3 separate regions of the Homo sapiens genome follow, and all the other regions are linked to region 1. Evidence: fine-mapped expression QTL. A gene starts in region 1. Each other region holds a variant in brackets. All regions are shown on one strand. Distances are between the middles of the regions. Region 1 holds the start of LINC02188 (long intergenic non-protein coding RNA 2188). Region 2 has its middle 33 kb from the start of LINC02189. Region 3 overlaps FOXL1 (forkhead box L1).

What was found. PIP is the estimated chance that this variant, and not a neighbour inherited with it, causes the effect. A credible set is the group of variants that fine-mapping cannot tell apart.
Region 2: its variant is the best candidate, but not a certain one, in a credible set for the expression of LINC02188 in atrial appendage (GTEx, PIP 0.79).
Region 3: its variant is the best candidate, but not a certain one, in a credible set for the expression of LINC02188 in tibial nerve (GTEx, PIP 0.55).

What each region holds. Positions count from the first base shown.
Region 1 is chr16:86,719,392-86,725,988 of GRCh38, forward strand. It overlaps LINC02188 (long intergenic non-protein coding RNA 2188), which reads left to right and starts at 2,700. Exons shown (of 3, transcript NR_135183.1): 1 at 2,700-2,740. It overlaps LINC02189 (long intergenic non-protein coding RNA 2189), which reads right to left and starts at 2,568. Exons shown (of 2, transcript NR_135181.1): 1 at 2,374-2,568; 2 at 1,293-1,612.
Region 2 is chr16:86,685,472-86,692,068 of GRCh38, forward strand. No RefSeq gene overlaps it. Among named protein-coding and RNA genes, the nearest start is that of LINC02189, 33 kb to the right of the region's middle. The variant G/C (reference allele first, on the strand shown) is at 3,810.
Region 3 is chr16:86,579,728-86,585,629 of GRCh38, forward strand. FOXL1 (forkhead box L1) reads left to right here. Exons shown (of 1, transcript NM_005250.3): 1 at 1-3,751. The coding sequence ends at 34. Among named protein-coding and RNA genes, the nearest start is that of FOXL1, 4.1 kb to the left of the region's middle. RefSeq lists an enhancer at 1-303. The variant A/C (reference allele first, on the strand shown) is at 3,644.

The DNA of each region.
Region 1 (6,597 bases):
TGGCTCTGGGCAAATTGGAGGACGCGATTGAAAGATGCAGTTGTTCCAATTCATGGTGGCTCGATTGAACAATGACGGACCTGGACCTGGACCGTGCAGGTACCTACAGGCCCTGTGAGTGGGCCTTGGGAAAATGGAACAAAGCAATCGCATGCTGCCTCTGATCGGATTGCTCTCAGTGCCAAGTGCAGTATAGACAGAAGCTAGCAGTGGGTGCAGGGCAGCGTGGCGTGCTGGGAAGGAGCTACCATGCCGTCTTGAGATGTTGCTGGCAGATCCTCAGTAGCTTCAGACCCTGCTGGCTTGAGATGATGCCTGCAAAGCCTCAGTACCTTCAGACCCTGGCACTGACACACCGGAGAGTCACTGGGTGGGGGGCGGGCTCTGCGGCTCCCCATGGTTCGGGTTTTCCTGGCTCAAATGGAGATCACGGTTGTGTTTCAGGTAGGGCCTGGCACTGAAAATGCTTGGTATGGGTGGAGGTTGTTCTTTTTACCCACACATGATCTTTAAGATTGTGCTAGCGCATCTCACAAGACATTTGCTAAAACTGAATTGTATAACTTGCTTTGTGTTCAATGAGGAGGGAGCAGCCACACTGGAGAAAGATTTCAGCCATGACTACTGTGTATCACACATGAAATCCTGGCTTAAGGCTGTAGGACTCCATTACGCTGTTCCATGCACACACTACGTCTTTGCAGGTATCATGTCATTAGGTGTGATAACAGCTCAGCATTTTTACATTCTCCAAGCTATCATCATGTGCAAGGCATATTAGCTCCTCCTAGCCCAAAGCCAATAGAAATGTCAGTATGGCCCAAGGGGTGCCTGAGAATTTAAACCATGACACTTGAAGCAGGTCTAGGAGAACCACCCTGGAGGAATGGGCTGCAGGTGCAGCCTCTCCTGGATTTACAGGCTCATTCCCCAGTGGGCATCATCGTGGCTCCCACCTGGGTTCATCTCTTGAATCAGTTCTCTCTTCTGCATGGGTATCTGGGTATCCCTTGCAGAGTGCACACCTTTTTTATTTTTTGACATGATTTCAGATGTGCAGAAGAGGAGCACAAAAATCTCAAGATACCCTTCACCCAGAGTCCCCAAAATTAATATTTACCATATTTGTTGCATCTCTCTCTCTCTCTCTCTCTCACACACACACACACACACACACAGAGAGGAAGTTGCAGACAAGATGTGCCTTTACTATTAAATACTGCTGTGTGCATTTCCTGAAAACAAAGGGATTCTCTTCTGTAACCACAATGCAATTAACAAAACCAAGGATGTGGCATTGACACAATTCTATTAGCTACAGACCTCATTCACGTTTTTTCAATTGTCCTAAGACTGTTTGAGCCAAAAGAATATCCAAGATCATGCCTGGCATTCTGTTGTCGCATCTCTTTAGTCTCCATTAAGCAGAAAATCTTGAGTCTTTGTCTTTCATGACATTGATGTTTATTTTGTAGAATGCGTCACCATTTCAGGTTGTCCGAATTGTCCTTGTGGTCAGATTCACGTCAAGACTTGGGGCAACAACACCAGGATGTAATGTCCTCATCACATATATTGATCACGGGGCCTGTGGTGTTGATTTAGCCCGCTGCTGGTGGTAATACTTGGGTTATAGTTTTTGTACTGTAAAGTCACTATTTCACCTTATGTAGTAAGTTACAAGCATCTTACTAGGAGATCTTTAGTTAATTTTCCAAAGATTTAACGTGGAGCGAGGAACTCAATCAATGTTGAGCTCCTCTGAGAATCTAGCCCAGCAAATCCCAGTAGAGTGCAGACCCGGGCTGTGGGGAAGGCACAGGAGAAAACCTTTGAGGGGCCTTCAGGCCGGAAGGAACTTTAGCTACTCACCAGGTCTGCCCCCTTTTTGGCAGAAAGAGAAACTGGGATCTACAGGAGGGGCGTGCCTAGGGTACAAGGCAGAGAAGGGCACAGATGGCCAACTTCACCCTCTTGTGCCCTGGGATGATATAGGTTCCTCACATCACAGTAAGAGAGGACTTGCACCCTTCTGCTCACCAAGGGAACAAATGCAAACTAGAGAACTTGTGGGCATCTTAGACAGGGCTTTCATCTTTTTCTTTTCCTCACCCTCCTGATCATCCTCTGGTTCCTATTATTAAGAAAAAAAAAAAACCTGTCTGTCTATCCAACTGTCTTGCTATCTCTATCTGTGTATCCTTCTCCATAGCCAACCCTTTTTTATTTCTACTATGTATATATTTCTATACATCTGCGTCTATATCCACATTGCAATCTCTCTCTTTCTCTTGGTTTTCTTACCTTTCAATGTTAATTGCTAAATGGGAGTAGAGTGAACAACAATAAGAGCAAAAATATAATTTCCTTTACCTTTGCAATAACATTCATAAGGTATTACTGGGAAAACATTAAAAATGGGACCCTTGTTTGAAAGTAGCAGGCAGGAAACACCAAGAAGCTAGAGAAATTCTCTTCAGAAGCCCCCTCTGGCCCACTGAGGGTCACCTTGCTAGAGGTCATCCCTGTCCCTACAGTGGCATCTTGTATAGTGTAGGGCACTGGCTGGGTGCCAATCCCGAGTTGAGTGTTGTCCGATGCAGACACCCTTGGCTGATGACCTCAGACTTGCCTCGGAACCCTGGCTTTATGACCCAACTGTGTGCTATGGTCCAAATGTGTGTGTCTCCCTCAAATTTGAATATTGAAATTCTCACCTACAATGTGATGCTATCAAAAGGTGAGGTCTTCGGGAGGTGAGTGGTTTGTGAGGTAGAACCCTCATGCATGGGAATAGTGCCCTTATGAAAGAGCCCCAAGCCCGGGCACGGTGGCTCACACCTGTAATCCCAGCACTTTGGGAAGCCAATGTGGGCGGATCACCTGAGGTCAGGAGTTTTAGACCAGTCTGACCAACATGATGAAACCCCATCTCTACTAAAAATCCAGAAATGAGCCGGGCATGGTGGCGGGCGCCTGTAATCCCAGCTACTTGGGAGGCGGAGGCAGGAAAATCGCTTGAACCCGGGAGGCAGAGATTGCAGTGAGTGGAGACCATGCCATTGCACTCCAACCAGGGCAATAAGACTGAAACCCCATCTCAAAAAATTAAATAAATAAAAATAAAATAATAAAAAACGCCCCAGAGAGGCCCCTTGCCCCTTCCAGCATATATGGACTCTCGAGAAGGTGCCATCTATGAGTCAGGAAGTGACCTTCACCAGACACTGAAGTGGCCAGGGCCTTGATCTTGGACACCCCAGCCTCCAGAACCGTCAGAGATAAATCTCTGTTGTGCATGGGCTGCCCAGTGGATGATATTTTGTTACAGCAGCCCAGGTAGACAAAGACACCAAGTTTTCTTGTCATGAGATCTGAATGAATAATTCGCTGTGTGTGGTTTGACACTGCAGTGGCTTTTCTGACCCTCCACCTGCCACAATCTCCTTCCTGGATTAAACTCCTTCTCCTGTACATGCCGAGATGTTTCTGTTCCCCGGTTGTGTCTTGACCAACAGTCTTCACGAAGTCTTTCTTTTCAAGCTTACTCTGTCATGATTTTGGTGTCTGGTCATGCCCGGAAATGGAATAGAAAGACCTAGGATTCTCCCTTCACCCTAAGGGAAATCCTTGCTTCGCTGAAAATGGGTGAAGCTGTGGGCTGAAAAAATATGTGTTCCTTCTTTATCTGGCTTCTCTTCACTCAGCTTCTCTGTTCAGTCCCTGCATTATTCATTTTTGGTGCACTTCCAATGATGTCTTATTTCACAATCAGCCGTAATACTGATCATAGAAACTTTTGTATGTGCTGCTTTTTGTGCAATAAATCTCTATTTCAAGCAGTACTCCAGTGACTAGCTAACAGGCTATCTGTTTCACAGCTATGTAGGATAATTGAGGCCTACTATTACTTTGAGGTTTAATTTCTGAACCTAATTGTGTGTGTGCATGCGTGCAGGTGCGTGTGTGTGTGTGTGTGTGTGTGTGTGTGTTCGGGGGAGTCTGTGCACCCATGTGTGTGAACCCAGAATCATACAGGAGACAGGTGAATTGGTTGGCGTCTTTGAGTGGTGGGCTTGAAGGCACACAGCCTTCCTGGTTGACCTTAGACCGGTAAATTCAGGCCTGTTAAATTTCAGGTAAGGTCACTGCCATTTAAGGAGATCTGTTTTGCTTGAATATTCTGACTGTCAGTCCGCAGACATAGGGAGTGTGTGAGTGTGAGTGTGTACCAAGATGAGGAGGATAATCAGGCTCCGGCTCCGTTTTTCTGACACTTTTATGGCTGCCTTTCTTCTGTGCCTGGGCTTCGTTCTCATGCTCTTTCCCTCGTTGTTGCGGGATGGTGGCAGCATCAGCAGCTGCAGAAACTCTTGTTCATTTCCTAGCTCCGAGGAGCGTCATTTCTCCAACTTGGAATAAAAGCCCATCCTCTACCTGATTGGGCCACTCAGATCAAGGGCTTAACACTAGCAACAGTTGCTAAGGCACTGCTAGAAACCGATTAGCTGAAGCCTGGGTGTCTGAACCAATCATTGCCAAGGGGGCGGGACTTGCCCCATCCCTGGAACTATGAATGTCTCAGCCCCTTGAGATCACCTGGGCGTGGAAGAAAGTTGAAAAAAGAAATCAGAATTCGCTTAGGATGTAGGAGGTAGTGTGGATGCTGGGACAGCGACCAGTGCTGTCTACTGTAATTCCCAGTTTGGTGATGAGCAGCGTGAGGCTCAGGAGGATTAAATTTGCCTAAAGTTGCAGCTGGCCAGTCAAACATTGGAAACCAGATGTATTTTGGCTCTAAAGTCTTGTGGGTTTTCTTTGAACCCACAACTACTCTCTATAGATTGGGGACGCTGTGCCAAGCAGCTTTGTAGACTACCAATTACTCAGCCAGCCTGGGAATCGCTGCAGCATTATTGACAATAGCCAAAAGGTGGAAGCAACCCACGTGTCCATCAGTGAATGAATGAAGAAAGAAAATGGTGCATCCAAGTAATGGAGGATTATTCAGCTTTAACAAGGAATGAAGGGTGGGCACCTGCTACAACATGGATGAAGCTTGGGGACATTCTGCAAAAGAGACAGTCACCAAAGACAAACACTGTGTGATTCCACTTTGATAAAGCACCTAGAGTAGGCAGAATCATAGAGACGGAAAGTAGAAGGCACCGGACGCAGCGGCTCACGCCTGTAATCCCAGCCCTTTGGGAGGCCGAGGCAGGTGGATCTCCTGTGGTCAGAAGTTTGAGACCAGCCAGGCCAACATGATGAAACCTCGTCTCTATTAAAAATACAAAAATTAGCTGGGCGTGGTGGCATGCGCCAGTCATCCCAGTTACTCAGGAGGCTGAGACAGGAGAACTGTTTGAACCCAGGAGGCAGAGGTTGCAGTGAGCCAAGATCGTGCCATTGCACTCCAGCCTGGGCAACAAGAGTAAAACTTCATCTCAAAAAAAAAAAAAAAAAAAAAAGAAAAACAAAAAGAAAAAGATAGTAGAAGGGTGATTGCCAGGGACTTATGGGGTGGAGATGGGGAGTTATAATTTAGTGGGGACAGCGTTTCAGCTTAGGAAGATGAAAAAGTTCTGGAGGTGGATGGTGGTGATGGTTGTACAATAGTATGAATACAGTCAACACCACAGAACTACACGCTTGAAAGTGGTTATTGTGGTAAATTTTGTTACGTATATTTTACTACAATATAAAAAAAAAACAATTTTTTAAAAAGTTGTGCTCCAGAGAAAGTGGGCATTTTAACTTCTGCGTGGAGGGGTTTGGCTACAAGGTTCAAAACATCTGTCATGACTCTGGAGCCTCCGAAGCCTCCTAACTTCACTGGCCAGTGATGTCCGCTGCCTCTTCCTCTCTTGAATGTCATCTGGAAAAGTGAGCGGTGATATGTGGAAACGCTTCTCAATGCTCTTCCTGACAGCAATAGTTGGCCTGACACTAGAATTCTTCTCCACTGTACACTGACCCCCGTTGTGTGTCTGTTACCACCACGTTACTCGCCTACATTTTTAGCAATGTGTGACCTTGCACGTTTCCTGCCACCCTGCGCTCCTGACATGAGTAGTCTTGCATCTCTCTCCCCAGCCAGACAGCATGCATGGGCCAGAGTCATGTGCTTGGGGAAAAGGTGGGTTGTATCGACTCCACAACCAGTCAGAGTGCAGTGGGCCCATGTTTTGTAAAACATATGTTTGGCAAATGACTCCCTGTGGGTTGCAGAAATCCAGATGGGGGAAGTTTTCTAAGTGTGATGTCAGAATGTTACATCTGCTGATCCCACGGGTGCATGGGACCAATAAGAAGACGTGAGTTGGTTTGTCCGAGAAATTGCACGGCGTGGAGATCTGGGGGGCACATTCGAATCTGGAAAACAAAGGCCATAATGTGCACAGCCCTCTTTGGGCTTGCGTATTGTTAGAGCTAGGAGAAGTCTTAACATTGCCTAAAAGAGCTCCCAATTTTATGCACGAGGAAACTGAGGCATGGGGTGGTGGGTAAGGTGAGTTGCTCAAGGCTGTCTAAGGCTGGAACTTGAACCTGGGGCTCTGTAGTCTCAGCACAGCACCCTCAGCCCCATCACGCTGG
Region 2 (6,597 bases), 34 kb before region 1:
ATATCCCTGTCACTAAATGGACATCCCATATTATCACATCTCTGTCACTGAAGCTTTTCTGTAAGGGGCAGAATATTTCAAAAGCTACACATCCGTTTTCTCTGCAGAATGTGATCAGAATGCTGCACCTTCGAAAAAATTATTTGTGACATGAAACTGTGGTACTTGGCTGAGAGTTTTGAGAAAAACAAGAGTTGGTAGGTGGATTTATTTTGAAGGTTAGCCTTCGACAAGGTTCAAGTGAGCTAGTTCTCTTAGAGAATTCCTTAGACAAGAGGAAAGGAGGAAGAGCGAGTGTCCTTTGTTTCCAGGGAGATTCTGACCAAGAACACACTAGACAAAACCAATGGGCCAGGTGTAGTGGCTCACTCCTGTAATCCCAGCACTTTGGGAGGCTGAGGCAGGCGGATCGCTTGAGGTCAGGAGTTTGAGACCAGCCTGGCCAACGTGGTGAAAGCCTGTCTCTACTAAAAATACAAAAACAAACAAACAAACAAAATAGCCGGGCGTGGTGGCAGGCACCTGTAATTCCAGCTACTTGGGAGGCTGGGGAAGGAGAATCGCTTGAACCGGGGAAGCAGAGATTGCAGTGAGCTAAGGTCGCACCATTGCACTCCAGCCTAGGCAACAGAGTGAGACTCCCTCTCAAAAAACAAAACAAAAACAAACAAACAAACAAAAAAACAATGAACCCAAAAGTTGCTTCTTTGAGAAGATCAATACAATGGATAAACATCTAACCAGGTTGATCAGGAAAGGGGAGAAAAGGCACAAATTACCAATTATTAGGGAAGAGTTTTTTTTTCTTTTCTTTTCTTTTTTTTTTTAACGGAGTCTCGCTCCATCGCCAGGGTGGAGTGCAGTGGCGTGATCTCGACTCACTGCAACCTCCGCCTCCCAGGTTCAAGCGATTCTCTGACCTCAGCCTCCCAAGTAGCTGGGACTAAAGGCACATGCCACCATGCCCAGCTAATTTTTTGTATTTTTAGTAGACACAGGGTTTCACCATGTTGGCCAGGATGGTCTCGATCTCCTGACCTTGTGATCCGCCCGCCTCGGCCTCCCTAAGTGCTGGGATTACAGGCATGAGCCACCAAGCCTGGCCAGGGATGAGATTCTTTTTTTTTTTTTTTTTTTTTTTTTGAGACGGAGTCTCGCTCTGTCGCCCAGGCTGGAGTGCAGTGGCGGGATCTCGGCTCACTGCAAGCTCCGCCTCCCGGGTTCATGCCATTCTCCTGCCTCAGCCTCCCAAGTAGCTGGGACTACAGGCGCCCGCCACTACGCCCGGCTAATTTTTTGTATTTTTAGTAGAGACGGGGTTTCACCGTTTTAGCCGGGATGGTCTCGATCTCCTGACCTCGTGATCCGCCCGCCTCGGCCTCCCAAAGTGCTGGGATTACAGGCGTGAGCCACCGCGCCCGGCCCGAGATTCTTGACATCACTGCAGATCTTACAGACAACTTGGGGAAAGTGGACAAATTGCTTGAAAGGCACAAACTACTAAGTTAACTCATGAAAAAATGGATAACCTGAACAGTCCTATCTATGAAAGTAACTATATTTGTAGTTAGAAACCTTCTCACCAAGAACACTCCAGGTCCATATGGCTTCACTGATGAATTCTACCCAGGCTTTAAGGAGACTAACGATTCCAAGTTTACATAAACTTTTCCAGAAAACCAAAAAGGGGAGAGCACTTTCTCATTCATTTAATGAGGTCAGCATTATCCTAATACCAAAGTCAGACAAAGCAATTACAAGACAAGAAAACCACAGGGCCATATTCCTCATGAACAAAGAAGCAACAATTCTAAATAAAATTTTAGGAAATCAAACCCAACAAAGGATAATGCATCACATGTAAGTGAGTCCCAAGAATGCAAGATTAGTTTATTTGAAAATCAATCAATGTAATTCATCATCGTGACAAACTAAACAAGAAAATCATGGCTGGGTGCGGTGGCTCATGCCTGAATCCCAGCACTTTGGGAGGCCGAGGCAGGCGGATCACTTGAGGTCAGGAGTTTGAGACCAGCCTGGCCAACATGGTGAAACCCTGTCTCTACTAAAAATACAAAAATTAGCTGGGCGTGGTGGCACATGCCTGTAATCCCAGCTACTTGGGAGGCTGAGCAGAAGAATCACTTGAACTAGGGAGGCGGAGGTTGCAGTGAACCGAGATTGTTCCACTGCACTCCAGCCTGGGCGACAGAGTGACACTCCATGAAAGAAAAAAGAAAGAAAGAAAAGAAAAGAAAAGAAAAGAAAAAAGAAAAGAGAGAAAAAAGAAAATCATGATAATCTAATAGTGGCAGGAAAAGCATCTGACAAAACCCAACATTCATTCCTAATTTAAAAAAGTCTGAGAAAACAAGGAATAGAAGGACATCCCCCTCATTTTGAAAAACACAGTCACAACTCACCCAGTATGAAATAGATAATTTCAATAGTCCTATAAGTACTTTAAAAATTAAATTAATAATTTTTAAATTACCACAAAAGAAATCTTGTTCATATGGCTTTACTGGAGAATTCTACCAAATGTTTAAACAAGAATTAACACCAATTTTATACAGTCTCTTCTGAGAAATACATGAGATGGGGATACTTTGCAGTTCATTCTGTGAAGCTAGTATTACACTAATACAGAAACCAGACAAAGGCAATAAAATTTTAGTCTAATATTCCCCGTGAATGTAGAGGCAAACATTCTTGAGTATATATCGGCAAACAGAATTCAGTAATATATAAGAAGAATTATACACCATAACCAAGTAGGATTAATTCCAAGGATGCAGGCATGTTTCAATACTCAAAAATTATGAGTATTGAACATAATCCACCCTACTGACAAGTTAAAGAAGAAAAATCACATATTCACATTAATCAATGCAAAAAACAGCATTGATAAAATTCAACATCCGTTTGTGATTTTAAAAAAAGCTCAGAAAAATAGAAATAGGGGAGAAACTTCCTGACTTGACAAAATGCAACTACAAAAAGCTACAGATAACATTATACTTAGTTGTGGAAGACTAAATGTTTTCCCCCTAAGATTGAGAACACAGCAAGAATGTCCACTCTCCCTACTCTTATTCAGTGTAGTGCTATAGGTTCTAGCCAGAATAATAAACACCAAAATTAAAAATACAATTCCACTTATAATTGCTCAAACGATGTAGTAAACGTAACAAAACACATACCTTGTATGCTGAAAAATATACAATGTTGATGAAGGAAATCAAAGAAGGTCTTAATAAATGGAGTGATATACTGCATTCAGGGATTGAAAGACTCAACATAGTAAAGAGGTCAATTCTCTTCAAATTGATATACAAGTTTAATGCAATTAATATCAAAATAACGGCAGAATTTTTTAACAGATGGACAGGGTTATTCTAAAATTTATTTGAAAATGGAAAGAAACTAGGTAAGTTCAAATAATTTTGAAAAAAAGAAGAATAAAGTGAGAAGAATCAGTCTCCCCAATGTCAAGGGTGACTACATAGCTACAGTAATCAAGAAGGCAGTGATAATGGTGGAAGGATAGACATATGTCAGTGGAACAGAATAGAGACTCAGAAATAGAACCACACCAATATGCCCAACTGATTTTTAACAAAGATGCAATTCAATGGAGAAAAAAAGAGACTTTTCAACAAACAGTGCCAGAGAATAGCACATAGGCAATAAAATCAACATCTATGTAAGGTTCACATCTTATACAAAAATCAATTCAAAATGTATAATGAACTTAAATGTAAAATACAAAACTATGAAACTTTCGGGAAAAATGTCTTAGGAATATA[G/C]GCCTAGGCAAAAAGGTCTTAAGACTTAACACCAATAGCACAATCCACAAAAGAAAAAGATTGATAAATTCAACTGCATCAGAATTAAAAACTTTTGCTCTTGAAAGATACTTTTCTAAGGATAAAAAGAAGATCCACAGAGTGAGAGAAAATATTTGCAAACAACATATCTGAAAAAGGACTAGTATCCAGAATATATAAAGAACTGTCAAGACTCAGTTAAACCAAACGATCCAATTAGGCAAAAGACATGACGAAACATTTCACTGAAGAGATTACACCGATGGTAAATAAGCACATGAAAAAACACTGAACGTCACCAGCCTTCACAGAATTGAAGAGAGTTAGGGCCTTGCTCCAGATTAGGCTTTGGCTCAAGGCAATGTTGTAGTTAGTTTGATCTTTTATTCAGACCGTAAACCTTTCACCATATCAGCAGTAAGGCTATTTCACTTTTTTATCATTCATGTGTTCACTGGAGTAGCACTTTTAATTTCCTTCAAAAGCTTTTACTTTGCATGCACAACTTGACCAACTGTTTGGTGCAAGAGGCCTAGTTTCAGCGTACCTTGGCTTCTGACATGGCTTCCTCACTAAGCTTAATCGTTTCAGCTCTCGGTGTAAAGTGAGACCTGTGACTCTTCCTTTCACTCAAACACTTACAGGCCACTGTAGGATGATTCCTTGACCTAATTTCAATATTATTATGTTGCAGTGAATAGAGAGGCCCAAGGATAGGGAGAGAGATGGGGGAAGAGCCAGTGATACAGTTAGAACACACAAGCCATTTATTGATTAAGTTCACTGTCTTATAGGGGCATGGTTCATGGTGCCCCAGAACAATTACAATAGTGACGAAGCTCACCGATCGCAGATCACCATAACAGAAGTAATCATAATGAAACGGTTTGAAATACTGTGAGAATTACTCAAATGTGACAGAGCCATGACATAAGCACGTACTGTTGGGAAAATGGCGCTGATAGACTTGCTCCATGCAAGGTCTCCACAAACCCTCAGTTTGTAAGAAACACAGACAGTAAAGCACTTAAATGCATAATAAAACAAGGGAGGCCTGCACACTCCAGTAAAGCTCTTTATTTTTATTTATTTATTTATTTAATTAATTTATTTATTTATTATTTATTTATTTATTTATTTATTTTAAGATGGAGTCTCGCTCTCTTGCCCAGGCTGGAGTGCAGTGACGCGATCTCGACTCACTGCAAGCTCCACCTCCTGGATTCATGCCATTCTCCTGCCTCAGCCTCCCTAGTAGCTGGGACTACAGGCGCCCGCCACTGCGCCAGGCTAATTTTTTGTATTTTTAGTAGACACAGGGTTTCACTGTGTTAGCCAGGATGGTCTCAATCTCCTGACCTCGTGATCCGCCCACCTCGGCCTCCCAAAGGAGTAAAGCTCTTTAAAAAAGAAAGAGTCTGGACAAGTAAATGTTGCCCTTTTAGAGTTTTTTGCTTTTCTAACAGAAAGAGACGTTAGAGACCGTCTAACCTCGTTGTTTTCCAACTGTGTTTCTTGGAACCTGAGGTGGACTATGATTTGCAAAGATGTCCGCAATCATACCCTGATGCCTGTAGGCTCTCCCACAACATGGTCTTGCCTCACCTGTTACTGAGAGGGAGATCTGTGTTCCCTGTGGTTGAATTTGGTGGCCCTTTGACCATCGATAGAATGTGGTGAAAGTAAGGCTGTGTGACTCCTGTGACTAGGTCACATGGGCCACATGTCTTCCACCTGGTTCTCTGGAAACTCTTGCTCTGGAGGAAGCCAGCCACCAAGTAAGAAATCTGACAACCCTGAGACCGCCATGCTGGAGAGGCCACATGTGGATGCATTGGCTGACAGCCCCTGCATCAACACCAGCCACGTGAGCAAGACACCTTGGACACACATGCGGCCTGTCAAGCCTCCAGCTGCCTGCAGTCCAAGCCAACACCTGGCTGCACTCTCTTGAGAGACTCCAAGTGATGATTGCCCAGTCAATCCCTCTCTAAATCCCAGCCCACCAAATCGTAAACAAAGTAAAAGGGCAATCGTTTGATAGCACTGATTTCTGGGGTAATTGGTTACGTAGCAATAGTAACCAAACTAGACCATGCCAGGGATCCCTGGAAGGCAGGGAGAGGGCAGGGTGAGAATCTTCATGGTGGGGGTTCTGGTAGCCTCCCTCCCTCCCTCCCTACTTGCTCAGGTGAGAGGAATTCGATTTGTTGGAGGAAAGTTCCCCTGGTCTCACCTAGCCCCTTCATTTTGGAGATCAGGATACAGAGGCAAAGCAGGGAAGTAATGAGCTGAGGTTTACAAGGCTAGGACGTGAACATGCCATTTCTCACCCTAGAATCTGGCAACTCCAAGTCCAGGGCTCCAATCTGAACATATCAGCTGGCCATTGGGAAGTTCCCAAGTCAATTCTGGGCTTTCTTAGTGCTCCCACTGTAATCTCAATAACACAGATGTTTTTTCCAATTCAAGTTGTGAATCTTAAAGCAAATCTGTCAATTAGAAGAGAGTCATCAGGTTCTGTAGTTAAGGTCTTCCAGTGCTAATTCAAGCAATCTGCTTTCCATCTAGCAGAAGCTACACCCCACATGTGTGTCCTGTGTGATTGTAACTTTGTTTTTAAAGCACTACCTGGGGAAGCATTTCTTATAAAAATTGTCGAAACAACGTAACACTCTCACCCACATGTATTTCCTTTCAGTTTCAACCCATCCAGTCCTGGCAACTCCTATAAGCATCTGCTGTGTTACTTTTTTCCTTCTTCTCC
Region 3 (5,902 bases), 140 kb before region 1:
GCAGGTTCCCGACACGGTACTCCACTTCCAGTAAAGCAAACAATGGCACGGTTCTTCTCCCGGCCCAGCCTGAGCCTCCGCTGAGCGAAAGGCCACAGCTCCCACCGGCGGAGGATTTTAAAATGATCTTTGCCTGGGTCGGCCTGTGGGTTCAGGGAAGTGTTACCAACCATTGCGCGCAGGTGGGCGCGCTCGCCTGCCTTCTCCGAAGCAAACTTTTCCCAGCAACTGGGAGCAGCTACGGAGACTTAAAAGATCCCCGCGGGGTCGTGGGCACCGCACGTGGGCCCTGCAGGGACCTCCACCGCGGGAGATTCCTTGACGTTTGACCTGTCTAATGGAGTGTGGTCTTCAGCCGCCCACCGCAGGTCCTGCGAGTCCCGGGCATGCAAGGGCCCGCAGACCACCCAAGGCAGGCCTTACAGGTGCAGTTGAGGTCCTTTCGACCGGGGACCCCCGTATGACCGTCGCCTGCTTCGCTGTTGCCGTGTGGCTCAGGCCTTGGTTTTGAGCCCATCTGGGTGGTGGGTGGTCACAGCTGGGTTTGTTCCTGACTTGAAGTTGTGGAGGTGCCGGGGGTGACCCCGGGTTTTCAGGTTTTCTGAGAGATGTAGGGCCCGATGAGGATTTATGACCAATGTTCAGCTATAGAAGCTGATAACCACCCAGAGCAATAACACTTTTATTTTAAACAGAGACTTTTTCTCTTAATTTCTTTCTGGGTAGTAAAAAGAACATGTTTCATTCTTTGCATAAATACTTGACTCTAAGCATTGACCTTTGAAAACGCTTGTATTAACAATTTTTATTAAGAAAGTGCACTCTATATAACATCTTCTTGCATTACGATAGCTCATTAGCCAATACACATGCAGCTATGTAAGCCACAACAGCAGACGTCCTATCCTTTTGCTTTTGTTTTTAAGGGATCAAAATATTTCAAGGGATACCATGAGGAAGGGTGTGAGGGGAAGGGGATATGCCTTGGACAATGTCAGAGTTTTGATTTCCATGTTTTTTCAAGATCCAGGCTTGGTGGTCGCTATATTTTTCAGAAACAGATAATGAAAGACTACATTTAATTTAAAAAGTTGGGTGAAACAACCAAAAGCAGATGCAGAGAGAGAGAGGGATGAATGCGGGGGAAGAATAAGGGGACGTGCTGGTGTCCGCTGGAAGGGGCCTCTCTGGGCCCCAGAGGACCTGAGGTTTGATGGCAGGAATCTCCCAGACACTCCTGGCCCCCGCACCCCCTGCAGCCGCCCGCTCTTCCCTCCCAGCCCTGCCAGGCAGGCCTGGAGGCTGATACTAAATCAAAACCTTAAAGAGGTGACTGGCAGTCTGGGGAGGGGAGAAGAGGTCTGCAACGAAAATCTAATTAAGAACATTGAGATGTTCACAACCAAGTTCAGCTTGCAGCTTCCGGGGAAATGCAACCGACCTCTATGCCATCTCTAGCTGGGTAATCTTCGAGGCCCTGAAATGCAATTTTCTGAACCTCTAAGTCACTTTTATTTTATGTCATGTGATAAAGACACAAGTAGTCACGCACTATTGGAAATAGGTTGGGAGGGAGGTCTTTAAGATCGCTTTTAAAATAGTTTCCAGGACTTGTCTAAAAATGATGACAAACTTTGAATCCAGAGGGCCTGTTGGTCAATGTGTTGGAAAGGACATTTCAGGCCGGCAGAGTAATTGGATAATTCACAGGCATAGAGGTGACTTTTGGAAAATTCATTCTCCTATCCATGCTGAACCAGGCTTCCACGACTGGGTTCTACCCAGGCCAGTGGGAAGACTCTGGGAAACTTCAGGCCAGCCTTGATTGGAAGAACTTCCAGGAGGAGCCATTGCTGAGATCCAGGCTCACTGTGATTCACTGAAAATGTAGCGAAAGGGCTGTCACTGGATATTTTGCTATCCCAAACTCTCAGCCTCTGTGAATAAAGTTGTTTTTTCATTAACCTCTCAGTGACTGGTTCAGTGGATTACTGGAGGGAAATAAACAAACAGTGTAATAAGAAAGAGGAGACTGGGATTATATCTGGGAGTCGTGTTAGCATCTCAGGAGGCTCTGGCTTCTGAGGGGTAAACACACAGATGGAGGGGAAGGAGTGGAGAGGATGCCGGGCCCAGGAAGCTGCCTCCATATCAGAAAGCACGATGAGTTAATTCTGCCGTATTGAATCGGTTTTTAATCTTTCCTTTTTCTTTTTTGTGTTTGTATGTTATCTTGGGAGGTTTTGTTAATTTGTGATGGCTATGTTTTGAAGAAGCAAATAATTTGATACTGCAGTTTTAAAAGGGTCGTATTTTAAAGTTACTATTCCAAAAAGTATTGTACGAATGTTACTTTTATGACACAGAAAAAATGCAGATGTATCCACTTTGTGTGTTTATACATGCATAAAGAGAAATTCTATTTAATCCCAACTTTTGTCTGGTTTAGAAAAGCTAAGACAAGTGGATACTGAGGTCGTTTTTATGTAATCTATATAATTGCATGTGTATTCCTTCCTCCTGAACCAAAAAGAGGAGGTTTGGGTCTTACCAATCCGAATAGCTGTTCTATTGATCCATATTTAATCGTTGGCTCAAAATTATGGCTCAATAAGGTCAATAGTTTCTGCTCTTAATTAAAACAAAATCTCAGCTATAATTAGGGTGAGCCAGAAGCAAGCTTATCATTGTACTCTTAGGCAATCTGAAGGAATACCTCTCTGCTCTCATCTAAACAAAGGGAACAGATCTGTCTTCTGTAAATGATCTTTGGTTCAAGCCCTGATTACACACACACACAAACAAATACCCACACACATATGAGTGCACTGATCATAATGAGGATATGGCAGGCACATGTTTGATAACAAAGTGTGTATACATATGTACACGTTTATATATATGTATATACATATATATACATGAATGTGTAGGGGTGTGTGTGTGTATTTGTTCTGTGTACATGAATGCTCATAAATGTATCTTTTTTGAATATACCTGAGACTCAGATCAAGTACTGAGTCCTTTCACTTTAACCCAAGTATTGATACTATTTGAAAGATTTTGTTTTTCTATATAGTTTTTAAAAATAGATAATAATTTCTATATAGCTTTAATAGTTTTGTTTCTCTATGTAGTATGAACCAGGGATAACTTTATTGTTCTGTGTTAGTATAGTGAAACTGACAGATTTTATTTAAACATCGCGGAAGACACCCGCTTTGAGAACTTTTCCCTCCGTTCACAAGGACAGAGAACTTTACAAAGGACTCTTGCTCTGCCTGGCCTCATCTAGTTGCTGGCTTTTCTAGAAACAAACGGCCTCCTGGGCCTCCAGTGAACCATAAGAGTTTTGAGAACCTGAATAGGACCTTCTTAGCCATTTTCAGATTTAATTGTGCCCGTTTGAATGGTGGTCTTCACCATTTCACTCAAAGTGGTGAGTGTATGCCCGTGTGTATGTTAAAGAATTAGCCACATATAATTATTGTTACAGCTGAAAGCCAGAGCCAGCCTGCCCAGACCCTGGCAGGTTAATGTTAACATCACAAAGGTAGGTGACGTTTCCAGTAACCAGCTGCACCCAGGAGTGAGAAAATAAGGGGAGAGCCATGATTTTGTGCACTTCCTGGCTTCATGGTGG[A/C]TGGAGTCTTGTTTCCATGAAATAAAGGTTGTTTCATAGAATGAAAAACATAAATGATAAAAAGCAAAGTTTGTCCATTAAAAATAAAAAGCGTGAGTTTGTGGAAAAGTAAGATTCTTTTGACTCACATTTAAAGCAGTTTTTTAAATACACCTGAATAGCCACATGACAAGCTCTCTCCTCTGCTGGTCCTTATCCAGAGGCCCCAGTGCTGAGTTCTTCAGGGCTAGGCAGGGGCCACAGGTGTTTACAGTGACCTGGAGTGGGGCCTGATCACTGGAGCGGGCAGTGGTGGGGCTTGGGCTGAATTGGGGTGAGGGAAGTTCTGTCCCTTCAGATGGCATCCAAATGCCAATTGCACTAGGCAAATCAAATGTGTGGCTTATAGGCCAGATGTAGAGTCAAGCTCAGGCTCTCCACCTTGGGGTGCAAATGAAATCTGGGGGGGTCACAGTCAACTCAGGTATCTTTACAGTAGCAGTGGGGGTGGAGGGAAGCAATGGAACAAAGATTTGGTCCCAACCTGTTTTTTCCATTAGGTACAAGAATCAGCGTCCTGGCAGGAAATAGAAACCCACTTAGATGGCTCCATGGAAAGGATCAGGGTGGAAGGACTATTTATGGAGGAGTGGGCTGGATGAACGAAACCGCCAGTGATTAGCAAGGGTGAGAACAGCTCCATCCTGCCTCTGCCCCCTCAGCCTGCAGCAGGTACCACCTTCAGAGCTGGAGTGGAAAGGAGCCACAGTGCTGGAGCAGACAGGAGGGAAGGGAAATATCCCACCTCTCCTCTTCCGCCTTCCAGCCTCATCTGATGCTTCCGATGGGCTGAAACCTGCAAGAAACCCAGCCTGCAAGGTAGCCCAGGTAATGCTGTCCATAGGGGTCAACCTGCAGAGGAGGTGAAGAGGGGCTGCGAGTGGACCAGGGAAGGGCTGGGCAAGCTGACTGTGACCAGCACACTGGGGGTCCTTCTGCGGGGACCAGGAAGTTGCCGCTGCCCTGACCACACCTTGATGTACAAAAGCCAAGGCTGGGATGTCCCAGACAATGCCTATGGCTGCATCTGGAATTCCAGAAGATTGGAATCTCCCATCTGGCAAGCTTCCAAGAGAAGCAGGCTGTAGATACTAATCTGGGTCCCTCTTAGGTGGGCAGGGCCTCGGCTTCAACTGAGTTCCAGAGAGGGCCTGCCCTGGCCATGCATCTCTGCCTGGATGTCTTGGAGTCTGAGAAGTTGCTGGACTGCCTTTGACTGTGCACAGTAGTAATGGTTTTTCTTTTTCTTTTCTTTTCTTTTTTCTTTTTTCTTTTTTTTTTTTTTTTTTGAGGCTGAGTCTTACTCTGTTGCCCAGGCTGGATTGCCATGCAGTGTTGTAGTCATAGCTCACTAGCCTCAAACTCCTGGGCTCAAGCCAGCCTCCTGCCTCAGCCTCCTGAGTAGCTGGGACCATACGTGCACACTATTACACTTGGCTTATTTCACAAATTTTTATGTTTGCAGAGAGGGGTCTGGCATGTTGCCCAGGCTGGTCTCGAACTCTTGACCTCAAGTGACTCTCCCACCTCAGCCTCCCAAAGCACTGGGATTACAGGGGTGAGCCACAGGGCTCAGCCTTCACTGGGTTGTGTGGCTGACGCTGTCCTGCCCTTTTAGAATGTGTGGACCACATGTTGGTGAGGGCATCCTCAAGCCCAATCCAGAAGAAGTTGGGACGATAAAAGGGTCTCCACCCCAGGGCAGTGTCCGTGTTAAGCCCACTTGGAAGGGTGAGGAACAACACCCTGGAGTTTGCGAGGTCACATGGACTTCGACAGCATGAACTTTAAGGAACAGCTCATGCCTTTGCAATGTGCAGCGGAAAGTATTATGAACCTCACGCCACCCAGAGCTCTTGGCTTCTCATCTCTCGGCTTCTCATCTCTCCCAGGTAGCTGGTCACCATCTCCTATCCACCTCTTCCAGGTCCACTCCAACACACCCAACAATGGGAACAATTGCTGTAATTGCATCTTATTGATTCCTTACCCCTCAGTAATTGATCTAGTCAGGGTGAGGTGGCCCCGGAAGAGGGTTCCTTAACCTGGATAAGAGTGTGGCCTCGGAGCCCATGAGACAGAGGCTAATAATGCAGCTGAGCCTTCACTTGCTGTTGACATTGGCAGTGACCTAACTCTTTTGTCCCTTAACTCCTGGCATGGGTACAAATAACATTAGTAACTACTTCATAGAGCTGTAATGGGCATAAATTAAATGAT